Regions from separate parts of the Homo sapiens genome. Here regions 1 and 3 are each linked to region 2. The links come from fine-mapping of genetic effects on gene expression. A gene starts in region 2. Each other region holds a variant in brackets. All regions are shown on one strand. Distances are between the middles of the regions. Region 1 overlaps NCF4-AS1 (NCF4 antisense RNA 1). Region 2 holds the start of PVALB (parvalbumin). Region 3 overlaps NCF4-AS1 (NCF4 antisense RNA 1).

What was found. PIP is the estimated chance that this variant, and not a neighbour inherited with it, causes the effect.
Region 1: its variant is fine-mapped to the expression of PVALB in whole blood (INTERVAL, PIP above 0.99).
Region 3: its variant is fine-mapped to the expression of PVALB in whole blood (INTERVAL, PIP above 0.99).

The regions. Positions count from the first base shown.
Region 1 is chr22:36,858,019-36,860,776 of GRCh38, forward strand. All of the region lies in intron 1 of NCF4-AS1 (NCF4 antisense RNA 1), which reads right to left. Among named protein-coding and RNA genes, the nearest start is that of NCF4, 1.6 kb to the right of the region's middle. The variant C/CTCTT (reference allele first, on the strand shown) is at 1,175.
Region 2 is chr22:36,815,751-36,818,508 of GRCh38, forward strand. It overlaps PVALB (parvalbumin), which reads right to left and starts at 1,285. Exons shown (of 4, transcript NM_001315532.2): 1 at 1,195-1,285. The coding sequence starts at 1,255.
Region 3 is chr22:36,852,090-36,854,847 of GRCh38, forward strand. The region is part of intron 1 of NCF4-AS1 (NCF4 antisense RNA 1); the gene reads right to left. Among named protein-coding and RNA genes, the nearest start is that of NCF4, 7.5 kb to the right of the region's middle. The variant A/G (reference allele first, on the strand shown) is at 1,318.

The DNA of each region.
Region 1 (2,758 bases), 42 kb after region 2:
AATGGCTTTTCTCTTTTTTTGGTTTATTCACAGGCTGTGGGATGTGGAGGTTATCAAAAATCAGGTCTCCATAAGTGAGAGGTCACTTCAGGCATTTCTTTGCACTTATCCAAAAAAGATTCCATCCATACTTGTTTAATGGAACGTGTGAAGAGCTTGGCTCCTCTTCCAGGTCATCCCTCTGCCTCATTCTCCCCCTGCAGCAGGAGCAGCAAGAGCCCGGTTCTGGAGTGGGAGTAGAAGGTACAGGCATTGCTGCAGCGGCAGGACAGGAGCCCATTGCTGACAGAGTGCCTGGCCTCAAATTACACTGTATCAGAGCTCGGGCATAAAATTGGCAGCAGCGTTCTGTGTATGAGGAGACAGAGAAATACCTGTATTCAGCAGAACCACGGGCAGGGACAGAAGAAAAGGAGAGAAAGAGGGGAGGAGGGGAAGAGCTGGCCCGTCGCGGGCTCTTCCCTGGACATCTTTGTCCCCCAGGTGCAGAGGTGGCTTCCCAGTGGCTGAGTCAGGGCCACAGGAGGTTTCTTGGGGGGTTGGGGGGGCCGGGGTTTGGAGGGCAAGCCATGAAAATACCTGGGAAGGTAAACTTGAGGGCTTAACCCACCTGAAACACACACATACAGATATACACACTGAAAACGATTAAAAAAGGAATAAGAAATGTCCATGTGTCTAGGCACTTTTATACAGTTTTCTATTAATTCCTACTACAACTCCATTAGGCAAGACTGTTTCACAGATTGGTGAAGAAGAAAGGTTCAAAAAGGACATGTTATCTTGCCTGAGTTCACCTATTATAAATGTACTTGTGTTTATACTCATTTGTCACCGACTGCAACCTAAACATCTAAACACATTCTCTCACAGCCACAATGCCACCACTATACACATTATATGGTCTTTTATAGACACAACACAAATGCACTTACACTTGCCTATGCGAGCTGTATGTGTTTATACACAAATATGTGTTTCCAACTATAGGCATATACTACACACACAGTTTACACAATCACCTACAAATTCTGTATCATGCTTGCTTGCTAAAATTGTTTTGCCACTTCCTGTCCTTCCTGACCAACTGTAGGCCAATGTCCTCCTCTTCCCTCAGTTATGGCTGTGTGCTTGCACCTGTTGGTACTTACAGACACCTGCACTAATAACCCTG[C/CTCTT]TCTGTGTTTCATTTCATCCTCTAGCCTGGGAGCCCCGAGACACCAGCAACTCATCAGACTTATTGTTTGTATTATTTCTAGTTCTTTGGGTGTGAATTCTTCATGATGTGGAGGCTCTGAGCTGTCTTTCACAGCTCACGATTTGTAGTTTTGGTCTGTGAGTTGACAGAGTAGGCCCTGCAGAGTCACTGACTCCAAGCTGTTTTTATATAATGCCTCAGCTTAGGATTTCTGCACCACGTGGGTAGCTTATATCGGGGCCTTACACCAGTGCAGAGGGCAGGCTTGAGGCTGATCTGGTACACACGTCCCTTGTTCCACCCATGGACTGTGAGAGGACCTCAGCTCCTGCCGTGACTCTAGGCTGATGGCTGAGAAACTCTGTTCCCATAATCAGTTCTGACACCCACTTTACACTGAGAACTCAGATTTGACTTTCTGCTAACAGCAGGACCTGTGGCCTGTACCTAGTCCCAGATTTGGCATTAAAATCTCAGCCCAACAATGCATATCCAATCTTGGTTTTCCCATGGGCTGTTGGCCACGTTCCTCTCCCCCTGGTATAGATTCCTGACCCCTCTCTTTGATCCTACCTAAAAATTATGCTTTCTTGTTTTTTTTAGCTGGGACTTGTATGTTTAAAGTAGTTTAAAACAACTTTCTGCTCTGCATGTATGAATACGAGTGTGTGAGCGTGTGTAGCTGGCAGGGAGTTACTGGGTGTGGCTGTGCCAATGACTCCTGTGGACCTCTTCTCAGAGAAGTCCCTTCAGAATCAAATACCCATACCTGTTAGGAGCTGCAGTCACTGACTGGCAGCGTTTCATTCATTCACTGAATATTGGTTGAGCACTTGCAATGTGCCAGGCACGCTGCTAGCCAAGGAGGCAGTCATTAAACATACAGATAAACAAACAAATGTGAGATGACAATAGTTATGAGTGCTCTGCAGTAGACGTGCAGGGACCTGTGAGAGAATGTAGTAGGGAGGGCCTTAATTTAGGGTGTGTGGTCAGGGAAGGCCTCGCTAAAGATGTAGCTTCTAAGCTGAGATGCAAAGGAGGCAGTGAAGAGCTTTTTCCAGCAGAGGGAACACCATGAGCATAGGCCTTGGGGCGGACGTCTTAGAACATTCTAGAAACGGAAAGGAGGCCAGTGAGAAAAAGGGAGCTCAGGAGCAGAGGCTGGGGAAGGCTGCAGGGCCTCAGGGGCATTGGAGGCAGGCAGGGCAAGGACTCTGGACTTTATCCTGAGCACAGGGTGATGGGGCAGGAGAGTTTAAGCAGGGAGGGTGAAACTCACTCTGATTGGCAGCCCTGTGAAAGAGGATTGGCTGGGCATGGAGATCTAAGGATGAGGAAAGGATATCCCAGAGTGCCAGGGCGCGCAAACCAAACTTCACACTCTAGGAAGACAGAGGCCAGAGGAACCAGGAGGGCTTCCTGGAGGAGGTGGCATTTACTCTGGGCCTAAGAGATCACAGGAAAATGGAGGCCAGCATTCTAGGCCTGGGGAAGAGTTTGGGCAAAGGCTTGGCAGTAAGAGAATAAAGGTGGGGCTTGATGGGCCAGAGGATAAGTGAC
Region 2 (2,758 bases):
GCAAACCCGGAAGTCCTGGCTCTGCGCAGAAATCCACTTCGGAGGCAGTGGGAAGGGGGTGTTAGGAGGCTCCCGAGAAACACCCAGTTAAGTTTCTTCCCACATGGGCTTGAGGTGAAGGGAGAGGGTTATCCCAGGACCCTGGGAGGGTGGCTTCCCAGAGAGGTTCTTGTGCCCAGGGGAGGGGGTGCAAAGCAGAAAGGAAATGGGGGTCCTTTTCTACCTGCAATTTTCTGTATCTTGGGGTCCTGTTTTAGAACACCTGGGGAAGGGTACAATGTTAGATCATGTATTTTGTGTGTGTGTGTGTGTGTGTGTGTGTGTAGGGAATGGCTGTTGAAGTCATGTTCTCTTCCCCTCAGCACAGGGCTAGAGACAAGGAAAGTTGCCCTGTCCACCTCCGACACTAGGCTGGGCAACCCAGTTCTAATACCCCTTCTGCCCAGCTAGGTGACCTTGGGCAAATGTCTTGTCCTCTCCAAGACAGTTCCCTGATTTCCCCATCTGGAGGACAGGGGAGGAGGAAGGCGGGCAGCTTAGCGCTGAAGTCCCGGGCAGCTGGGAGAGGTGAGACTGCCAGTTCCCCTCCCCTGCCCGCCTAAGGAGGCTGGAGGTTTGAGGCACTGAGGATGCCCCGTGCGGGCTTAGGCAGAGCTGTGCGCCGGCTCCAGAAGGTCACCTCGCCCGCAGGTCCGTTGCTGAATCTCAGTAAAGGAACTAGGACAGTCAGGGGGCCAACAAAGGCTACCGCCTGGCGGGAAAAGTCCTGTCCAGAATGAGGGTCCAGGAAAGGGGTCTCTTGGAGAGGAGGATGCCCCCTGCAGTCCCCTCTAAGTGCCTTAAAGAGGACGTCCAGAGAGCTCGTACAAGGACCCTGGAGGTCTCTCCTCCGACCCTGGTCTTCGCCCTTGGTCCCGGACCCTGAGTCCTCCCAGCCACCGGGCCTTCAGCACCCTCAAGTTTCTGTAACTTAGGCGGGGCGCCCTCTTCCCCGCCCGCTCCCCGCGCCAAGCCTCGCCCGGACAGAGTTTGGGAACTGCCAAGGACGCCCCCGCCCCGACCTCGCCGGCGCCCAGCGGGAAGTGTGGGCAGAAGCGCGCTGGGGAGGATCCGCCGGCTGCGGGGCCGGCGGAGTGCAGGGGCGCGGGCGGTGGACGAGGGGAGAGGGATGGGGAGGGGAGCGCGCTTGCTCACCGCTAAAGGCTCCCACCGCCTTCTTGATGTCCTCAGCGTTCAGCAAGTCTGTCATCGACATCCTGCAACTGTTTGAGCGGGCAGAGCAAGTGCGAAAAGATTAAAAAGTGCTTTTCTCATCATTTCTGCTCATATGACCAGCGCTGCAGTGCTGCGCGCCGGGCGCACGCCCGCCGGGCCTGGCATGGCGCCAGGGGCCCGGACTCTGAGCGCAGCGGGAGCGGCTCAGTCCAGCCGCGCCGCTGAGCAGCGCCGGCCGCCGGCAAGAAGGCGCGCGGACCTGCTACCACTCCTGCACCGCCAGGCCAGGGGTCCGCGGGATCCCAGGGGCTGCGGCCAGGGCACGAGGGAAGGGGCCACCTCTGGGATTTAGGGGGCACTGGCGTCACCAGCTGGGTCTGGAAAGTCCACCTGCCGTCAAGGACACGCAGGAGGTGCGCCGTCTCAGATCTGGGAACCTTGGCGGATGTCCTGCCGCGTGGGGGAAGATCCTGAACCTTCAGCGGCCAGCCTGCACCTCAGGACCTCCTAGGCCCTGCTCCCTTTCTCTCTCCACTCCTACCTCAGCCTCTGCTCTGGTCTGTCCTGGATGCAAATTTATGCTGCAAAATCTGAGCGCTGAGGTCCTGAAACCTGACCCACCCGACGCAGGGAGGAGGTGGCAGGGACAGGGACAGGGACAGGCAGGAGCTGCTGGGGCCCACTTCGGGTGCCCCATCCCACATCTGGCCAGGGATGCATATTCTAAAACCTGATTTGATGTTTTACTTTTATTTTTTATTTTTTTGCTGGCTTGATTTTTCGAAGAACACTTCTCAGATCTCTACTAACTACTTGCTTTCCTGGTCTCCTGGGTCCTGGCATCATGGGTCCAGACTCCCCCTACTCCTATAAACCTTTTTTGGGCAGAGTAGGGTGGGAGAGTCCGCTTGGAATTGCTATGCTCCCTCCCAGAAAGCCCCATATGTGTTTGGAAGAAGGGTAGCACCTTCAGACCACACTTTCTAGACAACCTAAGCAGGTGTAGGGGTCTGAACTTCACCTCTGGAAAAATGTCACGGTGCCTATCTGTATGCAGCCAGAGACCCGTTGTGTTCTTCCCCATGGTTCCCAAGGTTTCAAGCTGCAACCAGCTGCTTCTAGAGTGTGTGAGCGCTGGACAGGGAGTCAGGAGGCCTGGGTTCTAGATCCTGGGCTGCACTAAGTCCCAGTGTGACCTTGGGTTGTGACCTTCTCTGGGCTTCTGTCTCCTTCTGATGTGTTGATGACGTCAGTGGTCCCATGTAGTGGGACCTGGGGACTGCAACTTAAGGTATTGGCAGGTAGGCAGGGCCTTGGGCTGTGGTGGCCCTGGGTGGTGGGGACCAGGGAGAGCAGCTGTCCAGCTGCCCAGTAACTCAAGTTCCCTGACATCGCTGTCAACATTGTCTCCTGCAGCTCAGCCCTGGATGGCTGCCCTTCCTGGAAACCTTAGGATACCTCTGCTGGCTCCAGCTGCCCCCTCCCTGTGAGTCAGCTCCTTCAAGCCACAGCCCGCCAGATGGCTTCCAAGGCACCAAGGATG
Region 3 (2,758 bases), 36 kb after region 2:
GTTGTGACAGAGACCAACTCCCTGCAAAGCCTAAACTATTTACTATCTGGCGTTTTTTAGAAATTATTTTTCAGCTGGGTGCAGTAGCTCACACCTGCAATCCCAGCACTTTAGGAGGCTGAAGCAGGTGGATCACTTGAGGCCAGAAGTTTGAGACCAGCCTGCCAACATGTTGAAACCTCATCTCCACTAAAAATACAAAAATTAGCGGGGCGTGGTGGCAGATGTCTGTAATCCTAGCTACTCAGGAGGCTGAGGTATGAGAATGGCTTGAATCCGGGAGGCAGAGGTTGCAGTGAGCTGAGATTGCACCACTGCACTCCAGCCTAGGTGACAGAGCGAGACTCCAACTTAAAAAAAAAAAATGAAAGAAAGAAAATGAAAAGAAAGCATTTGCCAATCCCTGCTCCAGTGTACTGGGTAGGGTACAGGTTCAGCTGCTGTAACAAGCATCAAAGAATCAGCTGCTAAAACACAATAGAAATTTCTTTCTCCCTGAAAAATCTGAACAGAAGCAGGGTCAGAGATCCAAGCTGTTTTGTTGCTTAACTGTTCTCCATAGCTGGCCTCTCCAGCCAGCTGGAAGGGGAGATGGGAAATGGAAGATACACCTTCTGTCTTTCACGACACAGCCTGATAGCATGTCCATGGCCTCCCCTCCCATTCTATTGGCCAGCAACTGGTCACATGGCCACAGGGAGCTGCAAGGTAGGCTGGGAAATGTTCTCTTTAGCTGGGTGGCCATGAGTCCAGCCACAACTCAGGGACTTTATCACTAAAGGAGAAAGGACAGAGTGGATCGTAGGGGATATTAGCAGTCTCTGCTACACCTTATCAAGAAGAATAAAGACAGAGTGCACAGGGGAAGGATTTGGCATTCCCTGCAGAGTATTAGAAAAAAATTTGTAACATGCTCAAATGAAGTAGGTATCAATAACGGATATAAAATACCTCCTTCTTCCACTTCCTCCCTCAAATATTTATTAAGCCCTCATTTATATTAGGCTCTATTTGGATGCATTTTGCAGATAAATAACCTGAAGCTCGGAGTGCTTGAGGGAGATGTCTGAGAGTTCATAGCCAAAGAGTGAGAGCTCTTTCTGCCTTATTGCCTTGCTTCCCTTGGGACACCCTGGGGCTGGGAGCTGGGCCTTGCAGCCTGCTAGGCTGGCTAGGTTTGGTGACACAGAAAGCAAATGAATAATTTTTAAAGTGAGAATTCTATAAAGGAGACTGCTTGAACAGATTCTGTTAGACTGAAAAGGCAGAAGGAGACACCGAGGTCACCAGAGATAGAAACTTCAGGAAGCAGCCATC[A/G]CCCCTGCGGCTGTGGGAACGGAAGGAAGAGAGCGGGGTTACGCTAGCCTGGAAGCTTGGAGGAGGAGACTTAGACCTGCGGGGAGGAGCTGGGACTCAGAACTGCAGACCTCTGAGGAGGGGGTGGGGTGAGACTGGCTCTGGGAATGTGAAAAAAACTAAAACCTAGAATCAACTGCTGCTGGGCCAACATGGCTTCCAGGGCAGGGCAGTTGGGTCCCGCCTGCAAAGAGAAAGAAGCAAGCCCCTCCTTCCTCTCCCATCCTTCCGGCCTCCCTCCAGCGCCCCCTCCTGGCCAAGGGCAGCGGAAATCAGCCAGCAAAGCAGAACAAACAGGGTTTTGAGTCCCAGCTCGGGCACCACAAAGCAGAGGGTAGAAGAAAGGTTTGGAGCTGGGAGAAAATCATTTAATAACCAGCCCCAAGGCTATGACTCATTTAGACCCCCAGTCTGTGCAGACCTGGGGCCACTGCCTCTGAGCCAGTGCACACCGGGTACTCTGGAGCCTCTGTCTTCTGATACATGGGTCAGGGGGAATGCAAAATGATTCAACCACTTTGGAAAACAGTTTCCTTCTTTTTGTTTGTTTGTTTGTTTGTTTGTTTGTTTGTTTGTTTGTTTTTAGACCGAGTCTCGCTCTGTCGCCCAGGGTGGGGTGCAGTGACGCGATCTCAGCTTGCTGAAATCTCTCCTGGGTTCAAGGGATTCTCCTGCCTCAGCCTCCCGAGTAATTGGGATTACAGGTGCCCACCACCATGCGTGGCTAATTTTTGTATTTTTAATAGAGATGGGGCTTCACCATGTTGGCCAGGCTGGTCTCGAACTCCTGACCTCAGGTGATTCACCCACCTCGGCCTCCCAAAGTGCTGGGATTACAGGCGTGAGCCACCACACCCGACCTGGAAAACAGTTTTCCTATAAAGTTAAATATGCATCTACCATATGACCCAGCAACTCTCTCTTAGATATTTACCCAAGAGAAATGAAGGCACATGCTCACTCAAACATTTATGCTTGATGTTTGTAGCCCCTTTGTTTTAACAGCCCCAAACTGGAAAACAAAAAAAAAACCCTAATGTTTATGAACTTGTGCATGGAAAACAACTTATGTTATATCCATACAATAAAATACTACTTGACAATAAAAAGAATGAATACCGATGTACATATCAACACTCATGAATTTCAAAAGCGTTATACTATGTGAAAAAAAACAGGCACAAAAGATCACATACTCTGTGGTTTTGTCCGAAATTTCAGAAATGGCAAAATACTGTGATAGAAAGTGGATCAGTCATTGCCAGGGCCTGGGGGTAGGGGAAGGAGATTGGCTGCAAAGTGTCCTGAGGGATCTTTTGAGATAATGGAAATGTCCTATATAATGATTGTGGTGCTGGTTACACAACTGTCCAAACCCATGGAATTGTATACTTTCAGTTGG